5 separate regions of the Homo sapiens genome follow, and regions 1, 3, 4 and 5 are each linked to region 2. Evidence: fine-mapped expression QTL. A gene starts in region 2. Each other region holds a variant in brackets. All regions are shown on one strand. Distances are from middle to middle. Region 1 has its middle 11 kb from the start of RHPN1-AS1. Region 2 holds the start of TOP1MT (DNA topoisomerase I mitochondrial). Region 3 has its middle 3.7 kb from the start of ZNF696. Region 4 overlaps RHPN1 (rhophilin Rho GTPase binding protein 1). Region 5 overlaps TOP1MT (DNA topoisomerase I mitochondrial).

The links. PIP is the estimated chance that this variant, and not a neighbour inherited with it, causes the effect.
Region 1: its variant is fine-mapped to the expression of TOP1MT in whole blood (TOPMed, PIP 0.95).
Region 3: its variant is fine-mapped to the expression of TOP1MT in hypothalamus (GTEx, PIP 0.97).
Region 4: its variant is fine-mapped to the expression of TOP1MT in whole blood (TOPMed, PIP 0.96).
Region 5: its variant is fine-mapped to the expression of TOP1MT in whole blood (TOPMed, PIP above 0.99).

What each region holds. Positions count from the first base shown.
Region 1 is chr8:143,355,510-143,360,609 of GRCh38, forward strand. It overlaps a transcript of TOP1MT not described here. Among named protein-coding and RNA genes, the nearest start is that of RHPN1-AS1, 11 kb to the right of the region's middle. The variant T/C (reference allele first, on the strand shown) is at 2,936.
Region 2 is chr8:143,332,439-143,337,538 of GRCh38, forward strand. It overlaps TOP1MT (DNA topoisomerase I mitochondrial), which reads right to left and starts at 2,442. Exons shown (of 14, transcript NM_052963.3): 1 at 2,302-2,442. The coding sequence starts at 2,423. RefSeq lists enhancers at 1,666-2,350, 1,890-1,939 and a silencer at 2,140-2,599.
Region 3 is chr8:143,285,191-143,290,290 of GRCh38, forward strand. No RefSeq gene overlaps it. Among named protein-coding and RNA genes, the nearest start is that of ZNF696, 3.7 kb to the right of the region's middle. The variant T/C (reference allele first, on the strand shown) is at 3,113.
Region 4 is chr8:143,370,007-143,375,106 of GRCh38, forward strand. The region is part of intron 1 of RHPN1 (rhophilin Rho GTPase binding protein 1); the gene reads left to right. Among named protein-coding and RNA genes, the nearest start is that of RHPN1, 3.7 kb to the left of the region's middle. RefSeq lists enhancers at 1-31, 32-938. The variant C/T (reference allele first, on the strand shown) is at 2,605.
Region 5 is chr8:143,310,297-143,315,396 of GRCh38, forward strand. The region is part of intron 12 of TOP1MT (DNA topoisomerase I mitochondrial); the gene reads right to left. Among named protein-coding and RNA genes, the nearest start is that of ZNF696, 21 kb to the left of the region's middle. The variant T/C (reference allele first, on the strand shown) is at 2,521.

The DNA of each region.
Region 1 (5,100 bases), 23 kb after region 2:
AGGTGAGTGAGGACTGCAGGCCTAATGCCTTTCAACTTTTTTTTGGTTCTAATCTTTGAAAAAGATGTGGTCACACTGGTTGTTAACCACAGTAACAATCTGACAAGATGATTTATCTAAAACAAAAACAAACAGAAAGGGCCCCTGGCACATGAGGGAGATGCCAGACCCCCTTGTTACATCTGGGCCCCCGACACGAATGTGCAAGAGCCGGACCTCTGCACCTGTCAGAGGCGGCTCGCATTACGAACCTGCTCCACAGTCCTGTGGATTCCTAACTCCGCTCAAGCGGAAACAAAGACTGGAAAAAGAACACGAGGCAGGTCCCAATTCCACTGCAAAGGCCAGGCTCTCAGGACGAAAGCTGATCTCACCCTGTGCCCTCGCTCCCCCCATTCCCTCACTGCCCCATTTCACCTCACTCTTAGAAGAGGGATAAAGGGAACAAACCTTACCCAACAGTAAGATTGTCCCGCCCTGGATTTTCTTTTGAAACGGAGAATTTATTTTCTTCCCTCAAGCACTGCTATAAGTCACAAGAGAACAGGGTTACGTTGAGGACATTTCCATGTCATAATAAACAGAACTTCTGTGAAAACACTAGGATGAACCCCACCACAGCATCCTGCATGTGGCCAGCGGGCAGACAGACACAACTCTGAGAATGGGGCCGGCCAGGCCCAGGCCACTCACTCCCCGGCCCACGGCTGCTTGCCATTACAGTTCAACCAAAGCCTGGCAGCAGCCGTCAAAGGATTCCAGGTAACCAGTAACCAACCCTCCCAGGATGGACAAGCGTGCAGTCCCCACACCTAACTCCAGCTCCTTCTACACCCTACACACGACCCAGGCAGCATGCTGGCAGCAGATCCAACCCTTCTGAAATTTGACATAAATGCACCTTGTGTGAACACAAAGTACATATTTTTAAATTTATCTAAGTAAATGATCAAAAAAGCTTTTTATACTTGTAAAATACTCATTTCAAAAAGGTTCATCCAGGTGCAGTGGCTCACGCCTGTAATCCCAGCACTACGGGAGGCTGAGGCGGGCGGATCACAAGGTCAGGAGTTTGAGACCAGCCTGGCCAACATAGTGAAACCCCGTCTCTACTAAAAATACTAAAATTAGCCAGTCATGGTGGTATGCACCTGTAGTCCCAGCTACTCAGGAGGCTGAGGCAGGAGAATAGATTGAACCCAGGAGGCAGAAGTTGTGGTGAGCTGAGATCGCGCCACTGAACTCCAGCCTGGGCAACAGAGTGAGACTCTGTCTCAAAAAAAAAAAAAAAAAAAAAAAAAAGACCACATGCAGTGGCTCACGCCTGTAATCCCAGCACTTTGGGAGGCCGAGGAGGGTGGATCACAAGGTCAGGAGATCAAGACCATCCTGGCTAACACAGTGAAACTCCATCTCTACTAAAAAATAGAAAAAATTAGATGGGTGTGGTGGCGGGCGCCTTTAGTCCTAGCTACTCGGGAGGCTGAGGCAGGAGAATGGTATGAACCCGAGAGGCAGAGCTTGCAGTGAGCCAAGATAGTGCCACTGCACTCCAGCCTGGGCGACAGAGTGAGACTCCATCTCAAAAAAAAAAAAAAAAAGCTTCATGAGGCTGAGCACAGTGGCTTACACTTGTAATCCCAGTACTTTGGGAGGCTGAGGCAGGAGGATCTCTTGAGCCTAGGCGTTCTAGACTAGGCTGGGCAACATAGGGAGATAGGGAGATCCCATCTCTACAAAAATTAAAAAGAAGAATTAGCCAGCACAATAGTGCACACCAGTAGTCCAGCTACTCAGGAGGCTGAGGTGGGAGGATCACTTGGGCCCAAGAGGTTGAGGCTGCAGTTAGCTATGATCACCACTGCACTCCTGGGCGACAGAGTGAGACCTTGTCTCAAAAAAAAAAAAAAAAGTTCGAGAGTAAAAACAAAAATTAAGAATACAACATATTGAACATGTTGAAGATTGTGAGTTTAAAAATGAAACATTAAGGCCAGGTGTGGTGATTCACATCTGTAATCCCAGCACTTTGGGAGGCTGAGGCAGGGACTGCTTGGGGCAAGGAGTCCAAGATCAGTCAGAGCAACATAGTCAGGCCTTGTTTCTACAAAAATAAAAATAAAAACATTAGGCCAAGTGCGGTGGCTCACGCCTGTAATCCCAGCACTTTAGGAGGCTGAAGCAGGCGGATCACCTGAGGTCAGGAGTTCTAGACCAGCCTGGCCAACATGGTGAAATCACGTATCTACTAAAAATACAAAATTAGCTGGGTGTGGTGGCACACGACTGTAGTCTCAGCTACTCAGGAGGCTGAGGCAGGAGAATCGCTAGAAACTGGGAGGCAGAGGTTGCAGTGAGCCAAGATTGCACCATTGCACTCCAGCCTGGGTGACAGGAGCGAAACTCCGTCTCAAAAAAAAAAAAAAAAATTAGCTGGGCATGGTAGCACACGCCTGTGGTCCCAGCTACTGGAGAGGCTGAGGCGGAGGATCACTTGGGCCCAAGGGTTTGAGGTTATAGTAAACTATGATCACCACTGCACTCCCACCTGGGTGACACAGCAAGACTCTGTCTCTACACAAAAGTAATAATATAAATAAATAAAAATGAAACATTCACAGTAAATAAAAGGCTGGAACCTGGTCTTCGCCCTGTCTTCCCTGATTTTTATGCTTTGGCTTCTTCACTTTGAGCTTCTTTGCATTTTCCAGCCTTATCTGCCCAGTACTCTCTCTCTTCCTTTAATCAAAGAAATACGCTCCTGTAACTCCAAAGAAGAAACGGCAACACCAGTGCCAAAATGATGTTTTTGACAGGAAGAAACATAAACTTCACAGGAAAGCAGTGACATCACGCCCCTCCCATTCCTCCCCTGTTCTGATCCTGGGCTGTGGTTCAGACAGGACCTACAGCCCAGACAGCTCCTTCCACCCCA[T/C]TCTCTACCATTGTAGTGATGAGGTTAGACCCGAATGTTACAAGAGCTGGGCAAGCAGGTGAAGCACCCCCAGCAACAAAATCCATCATCATAAACATGCAAAGGCCACTGCTTCCCAAAAGTATTTGCTACCTCTTGAGAGCAACTTTATCATCCACTGGCAACTGCTTCAAATTGGGCCCCGACTGTCTCCCATCACCTATCTGCAACTGAGTGTCCCCACCTGCAAGAAAACACACACATCTCCAGGGCCCTGGGGTGAGCAGCAGGACCGTTCCACAGAGGTGAGCCTGGACCCAGGCAGCAGGGACACTGCTGCACCTGCGGCTGGAGTGACACCGAAAACACAGCAGCAGCTGAGAGGGCAGGAGAGGCAACCGGCCACGAGCCTCTGTTGGCTCCAACCACCAAAGGATGGTGCTTATTCCTGACCCCATTACTACGCAACCAGGCTCACTAGAAAGTTTCCATTAGCCGGTCTGGAGCATATTCCTGGGTGTGATATGCCATCATGTTCATGTTTTTTAAATCACTATTAAGTAAAGCGTTTTTTTTGTTTTCTGTTTTTTGGTTTTTTTTTTAGAGACAGGGTCTCACTATGTTGCCCAGGCTGGTCTCAAACCCTGAGCTCAAACGATCCTCCTGCCTCAGTCTCCCAAAGCGCTGGGATTATAGGTGTGAGCCACCGCACCGGCCCTTAAGTAGACTATTTTGAATGCTGCATAGAGACTCCCCTGAAAATAGCCTGTTCTTGGGTTTTAGCTGGGAGCTTATGGCTTTAGATGCGCCAGACCAAAAGAAAAAAAAACAGCTGCAAACCTGAGGTGTTACAAGGTGGCTGCCAGCAAAGCGATCCAGGAGAAGGGAGGCAGGTCACCACGCCAGGAGAAGAGAAGGGCAGGGAAAAGGCCAACTCCGGGAAGAAAGGCCCTGGGGCAAAGCGCATCCAAAGCCGTCACTCTGGGGCAGAAGACAGAGCGGAATCCCATCAGCGACGGCCGTTTCCAGACCCTTTTCCTAGGCAGCCAGACCGGCACCGCTGGCCAGGTGCAGGGCCCAAGCAGAAAGTCAGGAGCCAAGGGAGCGATGAGGAGGGGTGGGGCAGCCAGGGGAGAGGACACCGAGCGGGAGGGGTAAGCGAAGGGGGAAGAGAACAAGGGGGCCTGGAGGGGGGACACAAAAGGAGGGCCCATGGAGATGGAGGAAACACTGAGGGGTGAAGCACACGGAGGGGGGACACAGAGGAGGAGGGGACACGTTGGTGGCGTCGTGCGCGGAGGGGGAGGTACACGGAGGAGTCGCGGAGAGGCGAGGGATGTGGGAGGTCGTCACCAACAGCGCGACCTGGGTCACCCACAGGAAGAGGGCCACTGAGGGCCCCGCCTGACCCCTCCCTCCTGGTGGCCCTGCGCCCTCAGGCCGAGTCCCACCTCCTCTGCAGCTCTTCCAGGACCCACGCGGTCCCACCGCACCACGGCTCCCCCGGACCCCGCTTCCCCGAGGCCTGCGCGGAGACGCCGGGAAGGCCCGAGCCCGCGCATGCGCAGCCGCCGCCACGTGCCTGCCTTGACGCCGCCGGTGCTGCCGGGAAGGGGGCGGGCTGCGCAGGCGCGGGAGAGGCCCACGCGGTGGCCACGCGGGGCGTCCGGTGGCTGCGCTCGGTTGGGCCCCTGGGCTCGCGCGCTCCGTGGGCCGCGGTGCTGACGGGCACCCAGGAGGTGGGGTGGGAGGCGGCCGGCCGGGGTGGAGGGGCGTTCCTGGGCCGACGTGCTGTTGGCTTCCGCGACGTGGTGGAGTCTCGCCAGTCCCTGCAGCGCTTCTGCGACTCTGAAGATAAAGAGGATCGTATTTTGAGAAAAGCTCATGGAGCAAGGAGCTCAAGGAGCAAGGCCTGAGGTGCAAGCTGTCACCGGGTCGCATCTGCTTAGCAGCCTGCACATTGCTAGCGAGAGTCTCCACTCAGCCTGAACATAGTGCTTGGGAGGAGGAGGGCCGCCAGGCCACACCCGTGGGGTGCAGGATGCGCCATGTCGGGGTCCGTGAGTCTGGGGTGACGTGAGATCCCAGAGGCTGAGTCTGGAAAATTGAGCGGATGTGGCCGCGGTAGCAGAATGGACGAAGGCCTCCAGGCCGAGAGGGAGCTCTGTGTACAAGGGCACGGCAAG
Region 2 (5,100 bases):
GCCTCCCCCAGACGCACAAGGACAGAAGGTTCCAGATCACACCCCCACCTGCCAGAGCCAGGAGACCTGCACGTGACCCCAGCCAGGTAGTGCTGTTGGGGGCCTGGTGGGCCTGGTCGGCTGGGATGAGTGTCCTCAGAGCAACAGGAAGTCTCTGAAGGGTCTGAGAGGGGAAAGCATGTGCAACAGACATTTCTGAAAGGGCCTTTCTGGCTGTTTCTGCAGAGGAGGGAATGGGCAAGGTTAGAAGACGTAGAGACGGAGCTGATAAAGTAGGGAGAAGTTAACGGGCTCAAGAACCTTCCAGGGTGGAGCCGGGCGTGGTGGCTCACGCCTGTGATCCCAGCACTTTGGGAGGCTGAGGCAGGCTCAGGAGCTCAAGGCCAGCCTGGCCAACATGGCGAAAGTACAAAAAAACTAGCTGGCAGATGCTGCAGGCAGCTGGAGTCTGGAGGGAGACTCGGGGAGAGGGGGGTTCTGCTGACTCTGCAGAGCTTTTCCACGTCAGGTGAGACCAGCCTCACCTTTCTTACAGGTTTTAGGAGTTCAAGAGAGCCCACCAGCCCTGATACAGCATGTCTAGGGTGGGGCTGGTAGGAGGCTGCACCACTAAGTGCCCTGAAGGATGCAAACCTAGACAACGCCTTCTTAGAGAATAAGGGAAGATGGATCATGTCGGGTGTGAGAAAATGGGAAACCACGTGTATCTCGGAACTAACTGATAGGAGCCAGGCGCGGTGACTCACGCCTGTAATACCAGCACTTTGGGAGGCCGAGGCGGGCGGATCACTTGAGGCCAGGAGTTCGAGACCCGCCTGGCCAACATGGCAAAACCCCCGTCTCTACTAAAAATACAAAAATTAGCTAGGCGTGGTGGCGGGTGCCTGTAATCCCAGCTACTCAAGGAGGCTGAAGCAGGAGAATCACTTGAACCCAGGAGGCAGAGGTTGCAGTGAGTTGAAATTGCACCACTGCACTCCAGCCTGGGTGACAGGGCAAGATTTTGTCTCAAATAATAATAATAAAAATAAAAATAAAGAACTGACAGTGACCCTGACTGCCAAGTCCTTCACAAAGCCTCTAGGGTAGTCACATCACCAGTCTCATTTCACAGATGAAGACACTGAGGTGAAACAACCTGCCGGCCAGCGGCCAGGCAGGGCTGCACCACTGGGTGTGCGCTCAAGCCCAACTGAGGGCTGCACATTGTAGTGACATTCTTTCACCCCTGCAGAGACCAGGGCACCAAGCACCACCATCAGACACAAGCTGGCTTTCAAAGCCAGAGACCTTGCTCCAAACCCACCTGTCCACCTGGGCGACTGCAGCTCAGCAGCACTTTTTGGAAAGCACCTACCTGCCTGTGCACCCTCGGAGAGATGTGCCTCAATGCAGGGCCCACAGCCAGCCCCAGCTCCAAGCGCAGGCCAGAACTCCCTCCTCCCAAGACACCCTGCCCCATCTGGGGCTCTCTTTGGGTCCCAAGCTCCTGCAGGCAGACAGGACATTTCTGCAGCATGGCCTTAGGCAGCTGTGCAGGCCCTCAGCTGTGAATGGGTATGCTGATAGCGCACCACCAGGTCACAGAGACATGCCACGCTGGAAGCACTAAGTGAATGATGATAAACCGCGAGACCTGGCGGGAACTCCTGCAGGATCTCCCACGCACCAGTGAGGCTGTCAACTCTCCAGCTCTTCGGAAACTCCAGCATTTCATGCGCAGAGACCCATCCCCATGCGGCTACCCCAGGCCCAGTATGCGCCGGCAGGGCTTCTCACATGTCCTCCAGGAAAGCGCCTGGGACCACCAACGGCCACCAGGGCCACTGGATCCATGCGGCTTGTGCCTGGTGATGTAGATATGACAGTGAGCGCCCGCCGCCATGCAGAATCGGTCCTGGAGACAACCCGGGAACCGACTCCAGGAAAGAGCGGGTCTCAGAAGACCATGCACAGCAACATAAGCTTTTTATAAAGTACCTAACCAAACCCTACAGTGTTGAGGCCCAGGCACAGCTACACAAATGATGAAACCACAAGCGGAAAAAAAGAGGGGAGATTTCCCCAAATAGGGTTGGTGGGGTGGTGCCTGGGGAAGCAAGGGCGACGTCATGGGGGGGCCTGTACACCCCGGGCAGGAGGCGGGCCGGTCACACCGCGGCACGCATGCTCTCCTGGCCCGACTTTTGGGAAAACCGGAAGCAGGGCAAGGCCGTCCCACGAGGCCTGCCACTCCCCTTTCTGGACCTACCCAAGCCCGGTGCTCAGGGCCCTCGCCGCCTGCTCACTGGGACACCTTACCTGGCTCCACTGCCCTTCTGCGTCCTGCGCGAGCCCGGGACACCCCGGGAGGCCGGGCGGCGGGGGACCTCCCCGAGCAGCGTCAGAGCCGCCCGGAGCCGCAGCAGCCGCACCACGCGCATCTGCCAGCCTCCGGGAAAGAGCGACAAGCTGGGCCCCGCCCCAGCGGCCAGCCCCGCCCCGCCCCCAGCGGCCAGCCCCGCCCCCGAGCGCGGCCTCCGCCCCCAGCGGCGCTCATCCCAAGGCTGGGCGGTCTAAGCCTGCACGGGGCTGCGGCAGCAGGACCACTGACTGTCCTGCCGGCCTCCCCCTGGTTTCCCTGCCTTCGTGGTCCAGCGCCCCTTCACGCTGGGCGGGGACCCAGATCCAAACCCAGTCCCACTGACCTCTGCAGCACAGGGCTGGCTGTCAGGATGCCCCACAGGTCACACGACCAGGCCAGTGAACTCCTGCCCAGGGCTTGCACACAGCTCTCTCCCAGAGCCTCTGAGGGCAGGGGCACCTAGCAGGTCCTTCCTAAGTACACGCTCTGCTGCTCTGGAGAAGGGACCACACAGGCTCAGATGGCCCCCTACCTCATCCCCTACAAACAGCAGCACTTCCAGGACGCAGAAACCGGCAGAAGCACCTGCTGTCCAGCCCACAGCAGCCCCTCAGAGGTGGTGCCTCTGGACAAAGGTCACAGGAAGTCCTGCGAAATCATCCCTGCCAACCAGCCTCTCACTCCCAAGGAGACCAGAGACCAGGCACAGCTGGAGCCTCCTTCCTGCGCTCAGTCCCCAGCGTGACTGCTGACCCTGACCAGGGTTTAACCCCAGTGTCTTCACTGGGGAGCATGGCCAAGGGGCAAAACCTCTAGATCAGCACTTGGCGGTAGGCCCTGAGCCACAACAGGCCACACCGCTCACCTCTGGCAGCACCGCAGCCTTGGTCTTCCCCGGTAAAACCCTGACACCAGGACCGTGGGAAGCAGATGAATTCACATGCATTCCGCACTTTCACTGTGACCGTTGGGGGGAATGCAGTGGACACAGGCAGGAAAGGAGTCCGGGCTGCCACCGCACGCCCTCAGCGACCCTCCCCTGCCACCAACTGACTCAGTGTCCATGTCATCTAGCTGCTGGAAGCCATGGGCAGAGGCCGAGGGCTGCAATTGCTCGCTCTTAGGGCCCAGGCAGACCTGGTAGGTGTCCCATCATTTCAGAATGAGCAGCTCAGCAGCTGAAGGTACACACACACCAGGACACAGCAGCTGACTCTCCAGGTGGGCCACCTCCTCCCAGGGGCTGCGGAACAGTGATGCATATTTTTTCAGGTAACCCTTTCTACAAACCAGAAGAGGGCCTTGGCCCAGGCCCACCATTCCTTCAACGGAATCCTGAGGTCAATGTGTTTTCCAGTTCAGGTTTCTAAGGGTTTTTGATTTTTTGTTTTTTACTTTTTGTAGAGATGGGGTCTCCCTATGTTGCCCCGGCTGGTCTCGAACTCCTGGGCTCAAGTACCTTGGCCTCCCAAAGTGCTGGGATTTCAGGTGTGAGCCGATGCCCAGTTGGTTCCTCAGGTTTTGTAAGAGGGAGTGTGGCAGGACAAAAACCCTAAGATTTCTCAATAGATGCAGAAAAAGCAGCAGACAAATCCAGCACCATTTCATGATAAACAGAATGGAAAACCCACTCAAGAACAGAATAGAAAGAAACTTAACCTGAAAAGCAGCATCTACAAAACCCCGCAGCTAACCTCATATGCCAGAAGAAAGACTGGACGCTCCTGCTGAAATGAAGAATAAGACGAGGATGTCCACTCTCACCACTGCCTCTCAACATGGTACCAGAGGCTCTAACTGAGCAAACAGGCAAGCAGATGAAATAAGACACCCAGATCAGAAAGAAAGAAGTAAATTATGTCTATTTGCAGGTGGCATAATCTTGTATATAGAAAATCCCAAAGAATCCACAAAAATTGGCCGAGCACCGTAGCTCATGCCTGTAATCCAAGCACTTTGGGAGGTCAAAGCAAGTGGATCACTTGAGCCAAGGAGTTCAAGACCAGCCTGGGCAACATAGTGAGACCCTATCTCTATGGAAAATAAAATTTAAAAAAGAATCCACAAAAACTAGTAGAGCTAATAGATGAATTCAGCACAATTGTAGGGTACAAGATCAATATGCAAACATCAGTTGTATTTCTAACCAGTAGCCATACGCAAACTGAAAATGAAATTAAGAAAATAATTTATTATAGCATGAAAAAATAAAATACTGCACAATAAATTTAACAAAGGAAGTATCAAGCTTATACTCTGAAAACTGTAAAACATTGCCCAAAGAAATTAAAGACAGCCTAAATAAATGAGCAGCCATCCCATGTTCACGGACTGGATGATTTCATATGGTTAAGACAGCATTGGCCAGGTGCAGTGGCTCACGCCTGTAATCCCAGCACTTTGGGAGGCCGAGACGGGCGGATCACGAGGTCAGATCGAGACCATCCTGGCTAAAACGTCTCTACTAAAAAAATTAGCCTGGCATGATAGCAGGCGCCTGTAGTCCCAGCTATTTGGGAGGCTGAGGCAGGAGAATGGCGTGAACCCAGGAGGCAGAGCTTGCAGTGAGCCGAGATCACGCTACTACACTCCAGCGTGGGCAACAGAGCAAGACTCCGTCTCAAAAAAAAAGACGGCAATACTCCCCAAACTGATCCAAAAACTCAATACAATCCCCATCTAAATTCCAGCTGGCGTTTTTACAGAAATTGACAACCTGATCCTAAAATTCACAGGGAAATACAAGGGACCCAGAA
Region 3 (5,100 bases), 47 kb before region 2:
AAATTCAACGCAGCATGCCGAGCCCCAGGTACGTTGAGGCGGAAAGCTATGGTCCCCGCCCGGAGGAGCCATGCAGTTCCCCGCAGCGTGGGTGGAGGAGGAGGGACAGGTGTCCCAGTCCTTGAGTCTCAGGTGGGCAAAATCATGCCACTACTGTGGCACTCGTGTGCCTGACTCCAGGCAGGGCCTTCCCGTCCTGCCGCCCTGCACTCTGTGCATGGCCATTCTGTGAGGCTGCTGCTCCTCAAGCAGCCCGTGGGATGGGAAATCCCCTCGTTTACACGGTAGACCATCCAGCCCAGCGCCTGCTGCAGAGCCTGGGTGAACAGCGTCTGGGTGACGAGAGTAACAGGCAGGATGCAAGTGGGAGCAGGCGGCTTCCCAGGACCTCGGTCCATGTGCCCATCCAGCAGGACCCTGAGCCCAGCTCCCATCTGGGGAGAGGGCTCCACGGGGGCAGGCAAGAGGGGCTGCATGCTGAGCTCCTGAAAGCTCTAGAATGCCCTCTGTAGCCATTACACTCGACGGAGGGCATGGCGAATAGCAAGGGCTTGGGGCATGTGGTTGGGTTTTAGGTTTTTCCTTGCAGGACTGTGCTGAGCCTGCACCACTGGGAAGCCCTTGGCCTCTGCCCTTTCTCTGAAACGCTCCTCTTCTGCCTGGATGCCTTGGTCATTCTTTCCTCATCCATAACCTTGAATAGCTTCACCAAGATCCGTGCTGGTGTCAATATTTTATATTAAGTTTTCCTGGGATATGGTGTTCTTGATTTTTTTGAATTAGGGTATAATTTACATAGCGAAAATGCCCAAATTTTAAGCACTCGGCTTGACTGTTTACATGTTTACACTCTTGCTAATCCCCCCAGGTCACAGCATGGAACTTTCCAGAGCTTCTCCTCCCTTTCCCTTCCCCTCCCCCAGCTGATGGGTATTCTAGCTTCTGGAGGGCCCTGTCTGCCATCGGGCCTCTCAGGAATGGATTCGTCTGCCCGCCCTCCTGGCACTCCTTTTGCTCCACACGATGTGCTAGAGGTCACTCCGGGTGGTTCTGTGTGTCTGTTGGCCCCGTCCGCGCCGGCGTGTGGTTTCCCATTCTGAGTGTTTGCTCTGACCCCATTTTTATTGCTGGGGTTGTGTGCTTCTCAAGCCCTTTTCCAATCCCAAACCTGTGGTGTCTTTTCTGAGTTAGAACACCCTAGTGGCTACAAGGACCCCAGAGTAGGAAGCCCAGCATCCGTGCGACAAGGCTGGGTTCCCTGAGAGCCAAGCGGCCTCCCCACCTCAGCGCCCTCCCCAAACTCCTGCCCACACTTCAGGACCCGCTGGCAGTGCTGCTTGAGTCACTGCTCCCTGCTCTCTGCTTCTAATGAGGCCTCCACGCGCTGCTTTCTGGCACCTGGCAGGCGGTGCCTGCTGTGCCTGTGTTTCTCCCTTCTCTTTCGCGAGCTCCCAGGGCAGCCCCCGTGGTGCTCTGTCCACCTTCGGGGGTGTCCCTGGTGCCCAGCGCAGCAGGAGTGAATGTCCTGAGCCTGAGCCAGTTCTCCTTGACTGCACAGCACCAAGGTGCCAGTCAGTGCTGGTCAGGCTGGCCGCTAGGTCTTGGTGCACCCGCCACTTCCTACCACCCTTGCATTTTCTCCTCTTAGGGCCACTGGTGTGTCTCACCTGGAACCTGCTCACCAAAAACCCGTCTGTTACTTCACAGATCCTGCCACGCGGGAGCCCGGCACAGCTTGGCTGAGGTCTCTGCCAGGGTCTCCTGGAGCTGCCATTAAGCTGTCCTGGTCTCCGAACTCCTGTGGAGCTTGAGGTCCTTCCCTGACCATTCGGGCCGTGGCAGGATTTCCATCCTGCGGCTGTGGGGGTCAGGCCCTCGGCTTCCAGGGGTAACTCAGAGGTCTCTGCCTCCCCTGCTCCTTCTGCCAGGAGACTGGGAGTCCTTCCTTTCTGTGTCACCTGTTTCCTGGCTGCGTGTCCACTTGCTTCAGTTGACCCACGGCCTCTTCTTTGAACAACAGTCCTCTTTCTCTGAGGTCTTTTTTTGTTTGTTTGTTTTTGTTTTGTTTGGTTTGATTGGTTTGTTTTGAGACAGAGTCTTGAAGGGGTGGGTTGCCCCTCCACACCTGTGGGTGTTTCTCGTTAGGTGGAACGAGAGACTTGGAAAAGAAAAAGACACAAAGTATAGAGAAAGTAATAAGGGGACCCAGGGAACCAGCGTTCAGCATATGGAGGATCCTGCCAGCCTCTGAGTTCCCTTAGTATTTATTGATCATTCGTGGGTGTTTCTCCGAGAGGGGGATGTGTCAGGGTCACAAGACAATAGTGGGGAGAGGGTCAGCAGACAAACACGTGAACAAAGGTCTTTGCATCATAGACAAGGTAAAGAATCAAGTGCTGTGCTTTTAGATATGCATACACATAAACATCTCAATGCTTTACAAAGCAGTATTGCTGCCCGCATGTCCCACCTCCAGCCCTAAGGCGGTTTTTCCCTATCTCAGTAGATGGAACGTACAATCGGGTTTTATACCGAGACATTCCATTGCCCAGGGACGGGCAGGAGACAGATGCCTTCCTCTTGTCTCAACTGCAAGAGGCATTCCTTCCTCTTTTACTAATCCTCCTCAGCACAGACCCTTTACGGGTGTCAGGCTGGGGGACGGTCAGGTCTTTCCCTTCCCACGAGGCCATATTTCAGACTGTCACATGGGGAGAAACCCTGGACAATACCTGGTTTTCCTAGGCAGAGGACCCGGCGGCCTTCCGCAGTATTTGTGTCCCTGGGTACTTGAGGTTAGGGAGTGGTGATGACTCTTAAGGAGCATGCTGCCTTCAAGCATCTGTTTAACAAAGCACATCCTGCACAGCCCTTAATCCATTTCACCCTGAGTTGACACAGCACATGTTTCAGAGAGCACGGGGTTGGGGGTAAGGTCATAGATTAACAGAATCTCAAGGCAGAAGAATTTTTCTTAGTACAGAACAAAATGGTGTCTCCTATGTCTACTTCTTTCTACACAGACACAGTAACAATCTGATCTCTCTTGCTTTTCCCCACAGGTCTCACTCTGTCACCCAAGCTGGAGTGCAATGGCGTGATCTCAGCTCAC[T/C]GCAATCTCCACCTCCCGGGCTCAAGTGATTCTCCTGCCTCAGCCTCCCGAGTACCTGGGATTACAGGCGAACACCACCACTCCCGGCTAATTTTTGTAGTTTTAGTAGAGATGGAATTTCACCGTGTTGGCCAGGCTGGTCTCAAACCCCTGACCTCAGGTGATCCACCCGCCTCGGCCTCCCAACGTGCTGGGATGACAGGAGTGAGCCACTGCGCCAGGCCCAGCTGTCTTTGTTTTTCAGGGGTGCCTTTGGTAATTTCTTCATCGTACTTTTTTTTTTCAGGGTAGCAGGTAAGAGACTCAGTGGATAGGCTCATGGAAACAGTCCTTGAAGGGGTGGTATTCTAAGACTCAGCTACTTTTTTTTTTTTTTTTTTTTTTTTTTTTTTTTTGAGACGGAGTCTCACTGTGGAGTGCAGTGGCGAAATCTTACTGCAACCTCCGCCTCCTGGATTCAAGCAATTCTCCTGCCCCAGCCTCCCGAGTAGCTGGGACTAAGGCAAGCACCAACATGCCTGGCTAATTTTTTGTAATTTTTTTTTTGGTGGAGATGGGGTTTCACTATGTTGGCCAGGCTGGTCTCGAACTCCTGACCTCGAGTGATCCTCCTGTCTTGGCCTCCCAGAGTGCTGGGATTACAGGCGTGAGCCACCTCTCCGGCCTGGACTCGGCTACTTTTGGATCAAGAAATCCAGAATTTTCTAGACTGTGAACTTGCCCTTTATCATGGACATTTACCACCTGCAACTGCCCAGAGGTTCTCTGTCTCACCCTACACCGTGAGGACCCCCTTAGCAAACAGAATTCCAGGGCGCGGGCTCTTCGCAGGATCTGAGCTATTCGCGGGCGTCCTGAGTTGCTTGGATTCACTCCCCCACCCCCATGTCCCTGGAGTCCTGCCTTGTGTTTTCGATTCTGTTTCTCAGGGGCCCCAGCGTGTGGCCTCCCATTGTGGGAGAGCAGGAGGGAAGCGGTGAGGGGTGATTTCGGAGGAGGCAGAGCCCCGGGTGTCCGTGGGAAGCTCCAAAGCCGGGCCGCGGGACGGCTACCCTGGGCTGTGACGCAGTCCAGGATCTTCGCCAAGGCACCTGCTGGAGGCCCCTCCTGGGTCCCACGACCCCGACTGCGCCTGCCGGCTGCCAGCGAGGAGGCGGGGCCAAGGCGAGGGCGGGGCCGAGGCAGGAGGGGCGGGGTCGGCCTGATGGGCGGGGCTTCCGTGTGGGCGGGGCTGCTGGCCCTGCGGTCTGAGCCAGCGGGGAGAGGCCCGGGCGGAGGAGGCTGCGGACTCCTAGAGGTTCAGTGCCGGAAGTTGGGCCTGGAAAGGGGGCACCGCCTTCCCGGTTCTGGTGGCGGGGAGTGAGGGGACGGGCGAAAGCGGCACAGGGAACAGCATGACACGGGCCTGAGGCAGGGCACATTTGGAAAGGGGCGAGGAGAGGGCAGTGGCTTCTGGCACGGCAGCAGTGGGCATACAGAGGCAGTCGGGACCCGTCTGGAAGAGCCTCCGCCCGGGGTAAGGAGCCGGGACTGTGTCTAGGAGGCAGTGGGGAGCTCCGGAGAGCGAAGCGCCTCCTGCGCAGACTCGCGTGCTTGGAGTACCGGAGCCTGCAGGGCAAGAGAGGGTCTTCAGAAGACCCACGACGTTCCACTGGGATGCAGAGGGAAACGGTTACTTGTACTTCTACATCATCTCTTTTAGATGTGTGTGTGTGTGGTGTGTGTTGTTGTTGTTGTTTTTGTTTTGCGACAGAATCTCTGTCACCCAGGCTGGAGTGCAGTGCCAATCTCGGCTCACTGCAGCCTCCGCCTCCCGAGCTCAAGTGGTCCCCCCGCCTCAGCCTCCCGAGTAGCTGGTACCACAGGCGCCGGCCACCACGCCCGGCTAATTTTTAAAAAAAATTTTTAGTCGACACGGTTCTAACTATGTTGCTCAGGCTGGTCTGAAACTCCTGGACTCAAACAATCCTCCTGCCTTGGCCTCCCAA
Region 4 (5,100 bases), 38 kb after region 2:
GGCTGCAGCACCTCCTGGGCACTGGAGGGAAAGAGGCAGCCTGTGCCTGCCCCCTATGAACTTGCTCTGTCAGGGCGGCCATGCCTGCAGGTGGCCTGGGACGGCACATGTTGTTTTGGGTGGAATGTTTGGGAGGCTGTACAAACAAGATGTCCCAGAGGGCTCCGGAGGTGACGCTTTTCAGGCTGGGGGCTGTGCCTGGGCTCCCTGTCCTGGCCCTCCCTGGGCTGCCACCTTGGAAAGTTGGGGAGAAGCTGTTTCCAGGCTGCCGTGTCTCTCACAGCGTCCAGAAATGACCCCACAGTCAGGGTACTGGGGAGGGGCCCGTGGGAGGTGGCAGTGGGGCGGAGGCAGGCCCTGTGTCACACGCGCACCACTCAGGCTGTCCTGCCATCTGGAAAGTCTTCCCCGATGCCTGCTGCCGGGCTAGAGTGAGGCCTGTTCCACCCCCATCAGGCTGGCCCCCAAACTGGCCCTAAAGCTCAGAGTTCAGTGGGTCAGGGGTCGGTCGTTCATCCACTTAGAGGCCACACCTGGGCCTGAGGCCCTGTGGACAGGTCTGGGTGACTTGTATTTGCCCCAGGCGTGATGAGAGCAGGCTTCCAGCAAGCGCTTACCTGGTGCCAGGGCCAGTGCTACAGCTGGAGTCCTGCCATTGGTGCCTCCCAAGCCCTGGGCCTCAGCCCGTCTGATGAACAGGGTGAGTAAGTGGCCAAGGCTGCCAAGCTGGGAAGGGGAGAAGCCTGGCACGGCCCAGGGTGGCCAACCCAGCTGCCGTCCCTCCCGCAGGGGCTGCAGGGGCTCCCGGGGGAGGACCACAAGGAATACAGCCTGGCTGTATGCAGAAGGTTCTGTGGTTTCCTGGGGAGGCCAGTGGGAGAAGGGGGAGCAGGCTGCAGAGGGAGAGCGTTGGAGCAGCAGGTGGGCAGGGTGGCTGTGCCCCCCTCACCTGGTCTCCAGCATGCCGAGTGGGTCAGCCTGAGGTTCCCCAGCCTGGCTGGACAGGAGCACCCTCTGGGTGCTGGTTACAGGTTCCCAGGCCCCTGCCCAGGTAGATTGGGCTCCAGGAAGAGGGGTGCTCAGGAAGCACCAGTGCCTGGGTACCCCAGGGAGCATCAGAGAGAGTGGGAGTCCCTGCCGTGAGTGGCCAGTCTATGATTCCTCTGGCGTGCGTGCTGCTTATAGCCCTGTGTCCCAGGAGACACCTGTGCAGCAATGCCCTTTGAATTCTGTTCCCTCATCAGTGGGGGGCAGAGATGGTGGGTCAGGTGGGTGCTGGGCTTCCACCCTCCTGGGGCTTCCAGTTCTTGCATTCAGGTGAGACTTCAGTGGGGGCAGAGGAGAGGGGTACCTGAGATGGGTGGCTGTCAGCATACAGGGTGCCCAGGGCCAGGGCTCTGAAGGGAAAAAGCTGGTTTGCTCCAGGTGGGTGACCTCTCCCTGGGGACTGCCTGGCCCAGGGCCAGGGGATCCTGGGGGAGAGTGGAGGTCTGGCCCTGCTCTGATGTTTTGCTGTTCCCAGACCTGGGCTGGGATAACTATCTCTGCCTTTTGCCCGTCCCCAGGTCAGCCCCACTCTGGCCAGGGCCACACTGTTTCCTCCTGGGCAGAGGAGCCCCAGTGTCAGGGTTGGGGGGCTGTTTCTCTGTTCTTCGTCCCTCTCCATCGAGGCATGGCCAGGCCCTTCATGTGTGGCTGCCTCTCGGGACCCCCACAGACCACAGCCTCTCTGTCCTTTCCTAATGCAAGGCGGAAATGGCCACAGTGGGGTGTCAGGGCACCGTGGACGTGGGGGTGGGGAGCTCCAGGTCACCTTTGTCTCCAGAGGGTGGGGAGGTTGTAGCAGGAGTAGGGGCCTGAACGCCTGTGTCTATGCCCCTTCCACTGGGCTCAACCTTCAACCCAGTGTGGAAAGTGGGGCATGGGCCGCCCACCTCCAAGGTCTACCCAGCCTCAAAGGTCCGGCTCGGGTCTGCTCCTCCGCCTGTAGGCCGGGAAGTCACTTGGCCTGCAGGGAGCACTGCGGGTAGGGAGGCCGAGGAATGGACCAGGCCCACAGCAGGTGCCTGTGGGGCTCCAAGGGGCCAGGCTCCCCGCAGCTCTCCTGGGGCCAGGAGGGGAGCAGGGACCTGGCTGGGTGTCTGATGCCCGTCGCACAGCCAGAGCCCTTAAAGCTGCTGGAGCCTTGCAGCGGGGCCTTTGCGGGGAGGGGGTGTAGCTGCGGTGGGTGGCACGGGGGTCTCCTAGGTACTGGGCAGAGGCCCTCGAGGTGGTAGCGCCGGTGGGAAAGGTAGGGATGGGAGGCGGGGGTGGGCGGGCCTCAGGTTCAGGGAGCTTCTCAGATCTGAGGCGCCCATGCCCCTCTCCCACCTGTGGGCCTCTCCAGCCCGAGTCCCTGAAGCAGCTCTGGAGGGAATTTCTTTTCTGGAGGAGGCGGGAGTGAGAAACGGGAGCAGGGTGAGGGTTCCCAAGTGCACATCGGCCCGTCCGCTGCTGGGTGGTGTCCACGGGGGCAGGGCTGGGCTGGGGGAGGCCAGGGTCCTGGGCCGGCACACCCTCCTTCCGGCTGCCTGTGTCCCTCCCTCCAGCTGCCTGTGTCCATCC[C/T]TCCGGCCGCCTGTGTCCCTCCCTCCGGCCCCTAAGCGCCAACTCATCTTCAGTTCAGGGACCTCCGTCAGGCTCCCTCACCCCAGCACTCAGCAGGAGGCTGCCGGCCTGGGTGTCCAGGGGATGGTGCGGGTGTCCAGCAGACAGTACAGGGGTTTGGGGGATGGTACAGGTGTCTGGGGGATGGCGTGGGTGTCCAGCAGATGGCGCAGGGGTTTGGGGGATGGCACAGGTGTCTGGGGGACAATGCGGGGGTTTGGGGGATGGCGTGGGTTCCAGGGGATGGTGCAGGGGCTTGGGGGATGGTGTGGGTTCCAGGGGACGGTGTGGGGGTTTGGGGATGGCGCGGGTTCCAGGGGACGGTGTGGGGGTTTGGGGATGGCGCGGGTTCCAGGGGATGGTGTGGGGGTTTGGGGATGGCGTGGGTTCCAGGGGACGGTGCGGGGGTTTGGGGATGGCGTGGGTTCCAGGGGACGGTGCGGGGGCTTGGGGGATGGTGTGGGTTCCAGGGGACGGTGTGGGGGTTTGGGGATGGCGTGGGTTCCAGGGGATGGTGCAGGGGCTTGGGGGATGGCGTGGGTTCCAGGGGATGGTGCGGGGGCTTGGGGGATGGTGTGGGTTCCAGGGGACGGTGTGGGGGTTTGGGGATGGCGCGGGTTCCAGGGGATGGTGTGGGGGTTTGGGGATGGCGTGGGTTCCAGGGGACGGTGTGGGGGTTTGGGGATGGCGCGGGTTCCAGGGGACGGGGCGGGGGCTTGGGGGATGGTGTGGGTTCCAGGGGACGGTGTGGGGGTTTGGGGATGGCGTGGGTTCCAGGGGACGGTGTGGGGGTTTGGGGATGGCGCGGGTTCCAGGGGACGGTGTGGGGGTTTGGGGATGGCGCGGGTTCCAGGGGACGGGGCGGGGGCTTGGGGGATGGTGTGGGTTCCAGGGGACGGGGCGGGGATTTGGGGGATGGCGTGGGTTCCAGGGGACGGTGTGGGGGTTTGGGGATGGCGCGGGTTCCAGGGGACGGGGCGGGGATTTGGGGGATGGTGTGGGTTCCAGGGGACGGTGTGGGGGTTTGGGGATGGCGCGGGTTCCAGGGGACGGGGCGGGGATTTGGGGGATGGCGTGGGTTCCAGGGGACGGTGCCTCATCCTCCAGTCTCTGTCTCTGCCTTCCCATGGCCACCTCCATGTGACTGTGTTCAAATTCCCCACCTCGTATAAGGACCCTTGTCACTGCGATTAAGGACCCCCTACTCCAGGGTGGCCTCATCTTAACTCATTATATCTGCAAAGACCCTATTTCTAGAAAAATTGCAGTCACAGGTACTGGGAGTCAGGACTTGAACCTGTCTTTTGTGGGGACACAATTCACCCATAATAGATGGTCACCCGCTCAGCTGGCTGCTGTGATTTTGGGGGGCTGGACGAGCAGGCCTTCTGTCTAGGAAATCAAACCTTTCTTGTATAATGGGAATAAACTAATTAAAATGCACACAAAGATCTCGTTCACATTAGCAAAAAGAACTCTCTCCAGATATCTAGGAGAAAACCCAGGAAAACACGTGTGAGCTCTTTACGGGGAAGACGGGAAGGCCTGAGAGACGTGTGTGCGTGGAGAGGGTGTCGGGTCCACAGAGGGGAAGACCCAGTGCGTGTGCACGTTGGCCCCATGAATCCGCAGCTTCATGCAGTGGTAGGTCAGTTTCATGGTGGCAAGATTCACCTTCAGACGCCACAAGGTCCTGGGGAAGAAGAGGTCCTGTCTCCCGACAAGGGCGGGAAGCAGTCCCAGGAGCCACCAGAGGCCTTGTCTTGCTGCTGACTGGCAGAAATGGCCAGGTTGGCCACGCCTGACTCAGACCAGGCTCGCCCCAGGGCTGGGTGGGAGTCAGTGTCCCTGAGCAGTGAGCCCTGAGCAGCACTGTGGGTCTCAAAGCATGGAAGGAGTGGGTGCTGGAGAGGCAAGCCAGCCAGCCCACGCCTGGGAGCCCACCCAGGGGACAGCCACAGGTAGCTGCAAATAATCTTGTCCGGGTGGAGACCCAGGCATTCCCACATGGCCACGGGGAAGAGTGGGGGTTGGGAGGCCATGGTGAGAGGGAGGGACACGTGAGGATCATGTGGGCAGGACCCCAACACCACAAGGGTGGGGTGGGCTGAGGCATGAAACTGGATCTCCCTAGAGTGAAATGTAAGCTCCAGCACGCTGGCACCACTGACGACACAGGAGCCATCAAAGTCCAGAAGGGGCCCCGCTGGGCACGCCCCACTCTTTCGCCATGGCTGGTGCTGGGCAGGGCCGCGGGGCTGCAGTCTGGGTGCAAGGCTCAGAGTCATTTCTCTGTGGATAGGGAGGGCACGGGTGTGCGTTCGCTTCGAGAACCATTCCCAAAGTCAGACCGCAGCCTCTGCACCAACCATCGGGGGCCAGTGGCCGCCCCCAGAGCCTCAGGGACCCTGTCCTTTGAGCCCACGCCTAAACCCACATGGGAATGATTTGGAGGCG
Region 5 (5,100 bases), 22 kb before region 2:
CGCCTTCCCTCCCAGTGCAGCCCTGTCCCTGTCATTGTCATCAGTCATCCATCACAGCAAAAGACCAGCCGGGATCAAAGGTGGAAGCTCAGCCCCACCCCAGCTGCCAAGTCAGATACAGAGGAGGGCCGTGGGCGGAGGGTGAGCAGCCCGTCAGGACCTGACTCGCAGGAGGGTGAGATGCTCGACACAACAGACTGAGGCCGGCCCAAACAGGATGAGGGCAGCGAGACCAGGCCCGAGAAAGCAAACACAAATGTCCTTTAACCTCCGGGAAGCCGCTAAGCCCTCCTTCCTGCCTCCTTAGGGAAAGCAAATTTCAGCACAGAGATGCCCTTTCCACATTACTTGCACCCTCCAATGCCAGAACATCACCCACACATGCAACCTCTGACCCCAACTCTTCTAGGAATTTGTGCCACAAACACTCGAATGTGCGTGGAAAGACAAACTTGCGCCTGCAAAAATACGGCTGAGAATGGGGCAGCCCGCCGGGCCAGAAGCATAGGTCCGGGGAAGTGCCTTCCCAGCATGAGCCACATCCCCAGGGGCCGAGGGACACATGAGGGGCTGCTATTTATGTGAAAACAAGGAGGGAAAACAGAGGAAGAGCCAGCACGCACACACAGTCCTTCTGGAAATGCTTAAGAAATTTCTCTTGGCTTTTTTTTTTTTTTTTTGAGACGGAGTCTTGCTTTGTCACCCAGGCTGGAGTGCAGTTGCATGATCTCAGCTCACTGGAACCTCTGCCTCCCGGGTTCAAGTGAATCTCCTGCCTCCTGAGTAGCTGGGACTACAGGCATGTGCCACCACGCACATGATTTTTTTTTTTTTTTTTTTTTTTGTATTTTTAGCAGAGACAGGGTTTCACCATGTTGGCCATGATGGTCTCAAACTCCCAACCTCAAGTGATCTGCCTGCCTCGGCTGCCCAGAGTGTTGGGATTACAGGCATGAGCAACCTTGCCTGGCCAGGAAATGCTAAAGAAATTTTACAGCAGCTGCCTCTGGGGACAGGAGGTCAGGGGTGAGTCACAGCCTTATTTTTCACTGAATACCCTTTGTTCCAATTGACATTTCCTTCGCACACGCCACCATTAAAAACAGACCCCTGCATCTCCGGATGCTCATCCTGAAGAGAAAACTTTTACCCTTTAAGAACCACAGCCAGGCCAGGAGCAGTGGCTCACGCCTGTAATCCCAGCACTGTGGGAGGCCGAGGCGGGTGGATCACGAGGTCAGGAGATTGAGACCATCCTGGCTAACATGGTGAAACTCCGTCTCTACTAAAAATACAAAAATTAGCCAGGCATGGTGCCGTGCACCTGTAATCCCAGCTACTCAGGAGGCTGAGGCAGGAAAATAGTTTGAACCCGGGAGGCAGAGGTTGTGGTGAGCTGAGATCATGCCACTGCACTCCAGCCTGGGCAACAGAGTGAGAGACTCTGTGTCAAAAAAAAAAAAAAAAGAACCGCAGCCACAATAATGAGGAATGAATGAAAGAGGGAACATCACTAAAGAAATAAAAAAGATAATATGGGAATACTATGAATAACTGGGCACCAGCCAGTTAGACACCCTAGACTAAACAAATTCCCAGAAAGATACAAACTACCAGAACCAACTCACAAAGTATAGAAAATATGAATAGAACTATAACAAGTGATTATATCAGTAACTTTAAACGTCTCCCAAAGAAAAGCCCAGGCCTAGATGGTTTCACTGGTGAATTCATTTAACAAACTGACCCTAGCCAGGCAGTGCAGTGCAAGCCTATAGTCTCAGCTATTCAGGAGGCTGAGTTCGGAGGACTGCTTGAGCCCAGGAGTTCAAGACCAGCCTGAGCAACACAGCAAGACTCTCTCTTTAAAAAGGCACCAATTTTTCATAAACTTTCATGAAATATTAGATATTATATTAAATATTATTCAACTCGTTACCAGTATTACCTTGATACCAAAATCAATGACATCATAAGAAAACTATAGACTAACATGCTCATGAATACAGATGCAAAAACCTCAACAAAATATCAGCAAACTGAATCCAGCAATAGACAAAAATGATTACACAATTGCTCAAGTAGGATTTATCCCAGGAATGCAAGGATGGTTTCATATCTGATCAATTAGTATAATACATCCTATCAATATAAGGAAGGGACAAAAACAAGATCTCAACAGGTGCAGAAAATCATTTGACAAAATCCAATGCTCTTCATGATAAAAAAAAAAGAACCTCAACAAACTAGGAATAGAAGTAAATTTTGTTAACTTAACAAACAGCTTCTGTGAAAAACCTACAGTTAACATCATATTCCATGATAAAAGCATGAGAGTTTTGCCCCCAGTATCAGGAACAAGGCAAGGCTGCCCACTCATGTCCAGTGTACTGGAGATTCCTGCCAGGTCCATAATGCAAAAATATGAAATAAAAGGCATATGATTGGAAAAGAAAAAGTAAAACTATCTCTGTTTGCATACAATATGGCCTTTATAGATACAGTCCTAAGGGCCAGGCA[T/C]GTTGGCTCATACTTTTAATCTCAGAGCTCTGGGAGGCCAAGGCAGGATTGCTTAAAGCCAGGAGTTCAAGAGTAGCTTGGGCAACATACAAAAATTTTCTTAGTGTAAAAATTAGCCAGTTGTGGCCGTTGGCACCTGTGGTCCCAGCTACTCAGGAGGCTGAGGCGGGAGGATTGCTTGAGCCCAGCAAGTTGAGACTATGGTGAGCTAGGATGCTGAGACATCTGGCTGTCCACATGCAAGAGAATGACCCTGGGCCCTTCCCTCAGACCACACACAAAAATTAACTCAGAACCAATGACCTAAATGTAAGAGTAAACCAATAAACCTCTTAGGAGAAAACAGAGAAATCTATCTTCATGGCCTTGGGTTAGGCAAAGCCTTCTCAGCACGCTGACTCATCCAAATCTTAAATGTGTCACAGGACACCAACAAGAAAGAAGAAAGATGTGGCCGGGCGCAGTTGCTCACACCTGTAATCCCAGCACTTTGGGAGGCCGAGGTGGGTGGATCACCCGAGGTCAGGAGTTCAAGACCAGCCTGACCGACATGGTGAAACCCCATCTGTACTAAAATACAAAAATTAGCCAGGTATAGTGGTGTGTGTCTGTAGTCTCAGCTACTCGGGAGGCTGAGGCAGGAGAATCGCTTGAACCCAGGAGGCAGAGGTTGCAGTAAGCCAAGATCACGCCACTGCACTCTAGCCTGGGTGACAGAGCAAGACTCCATCACCAAAAAAAAAAAAAAAAAATAGGGCTGGGAGTAGTGACTCACACCTGTAATCCCAGCACTTTGGGAGGCCGAGACAGGCAGATTGCCTGAGCTCAGGAGTTCAAGACCAGCCTGGGCAACATGGTGAAACCCCGTCTCTACTAAAATACAAAAAAATTAGCCGGGCATGGTGGCGGGTGCCTGTAATCCCAGCTACTCAGGAGGCTGAGGCAGGAGAATTGCTTGAAACCTGGAGGCAGAGATTGCAGTGAGCCGAGATCATGCCATTGCACTCCAGCCTTGGCGACAGAGCAATGCTCTGTCTCCAAAGGAAAAAAAAAAAAAAGAAAGAACAAAGACAACCCAAGAGTGGGCGAAACATCGACGAGCTCTTACAAGTCAATAATAAAACAACAACCCGACTGGAAAATGGACAGAGGACCTGAGCAGTCATTCTCCAGAGACGATACAGAAGTGGGCAACAAGCACCTGCAAAGAGCACCCACGGCCAGACGCTCCTTCACACCCACTGGGCTCTAATCGACACATGGAAAACTGACCCTACAGTGGCGCCTGGACAGAGGAATCGGAGCCCTCACACACTGCTGGTGGGGAGGGGATGGTGCCGCCGCCCTGGAGAAGAGTCTGGCACCTTCTTCTCATTTCCTGACCCCACAATGACAATCACAAACCTCCTTGGCGGCCAGGGTCTCCTCCTCCCACGGCTCCATGTGTCCCACTCTTGTCCACAAGGCATATAGTTTGTATTTTTAAAAATCACAAAGTTGGCCAGGTGCAGTGGCTCATGCCTGTAATCCCAGCACTTTGAGATGCCAAGGCAGGAGGATCACTTGAGGCCAGGAGTTTGACCAGCCTGGCCAACATGGAGAAACCCCGTTTCTACTAAATAAATAAATGAGCCGGGCGTGGTGGCGCGCACCTGTAACCCCAGCTACTCGGGAGGCTGAGGCAGGAGAATCACTTGAACCCGGGAGGCGGAGGTTGCAGTGAGCTGAGACCGCGCCAGCGCACTCCAGCCTGGCGACAGAGACTCCATCTCAAAAAAAAAAAAAAAAAAATCACAAAATAACAATTGAAGAGGAAAACAAAACTGGCCATGGGAAGGCGCGTCTGAAGCTGCCACATCTGGGTTGGTGTGGGCGGCAGCTACCTAGGTGCTGAGGCAAGAGACTGAGGGCACGAGCTGTTCCAGTATAATAAAATACATAAGAATAGTTATACTATATATAGATCATAGATATGATTATATATGAATATCATTAATCATTAGTTGGTAGCAATTACTCTTTTTTCCAATATTATAATAATCCTCGCTCTACAATCATAGCCTAGGAAAAACCAGGCCATACAGAGATATGAGGGGACATAGTGAGGAGTAACCAGAAGACAAGAGTGCGAGCCTTCTGTTATGCCCAGACAGGGCCACCAGAGGGCTCCTTGGTCTAGCGGTAACGCCAGCGTCTGGGAAGATGCCTATTGCCAGGCCAACCATGGTCTAGCGGTAGCATCAGTGTCAAGGAAAAACACCTGCCACTTAGCAGACCGGGAAAGGGAGTCTCCCTTTCCCCAGGGGAGTTTAGAGAAGACTCTACTCCTCCACCTCTTGTGGAGGGCCTGACATCAGTCAGGCTCGCCCGCAGTTATCCGGAGGCCTAACCGTCTCCCTGTGATGCTGTGCTTCAGTGGTCATGCTCCTAGTCTGCCTTCATGTTCCATCCTGTACACCTGGCTCTGCCTTCTAGATAGCAGTAGAAAATTAGTGAAAGTACTAAAAGTCTCTGATATGCAGAAATAATGGCGTAAACTGTTCTCTCTCTCTCTGCCTCGGCTGCCAAACAGGGAAGGGC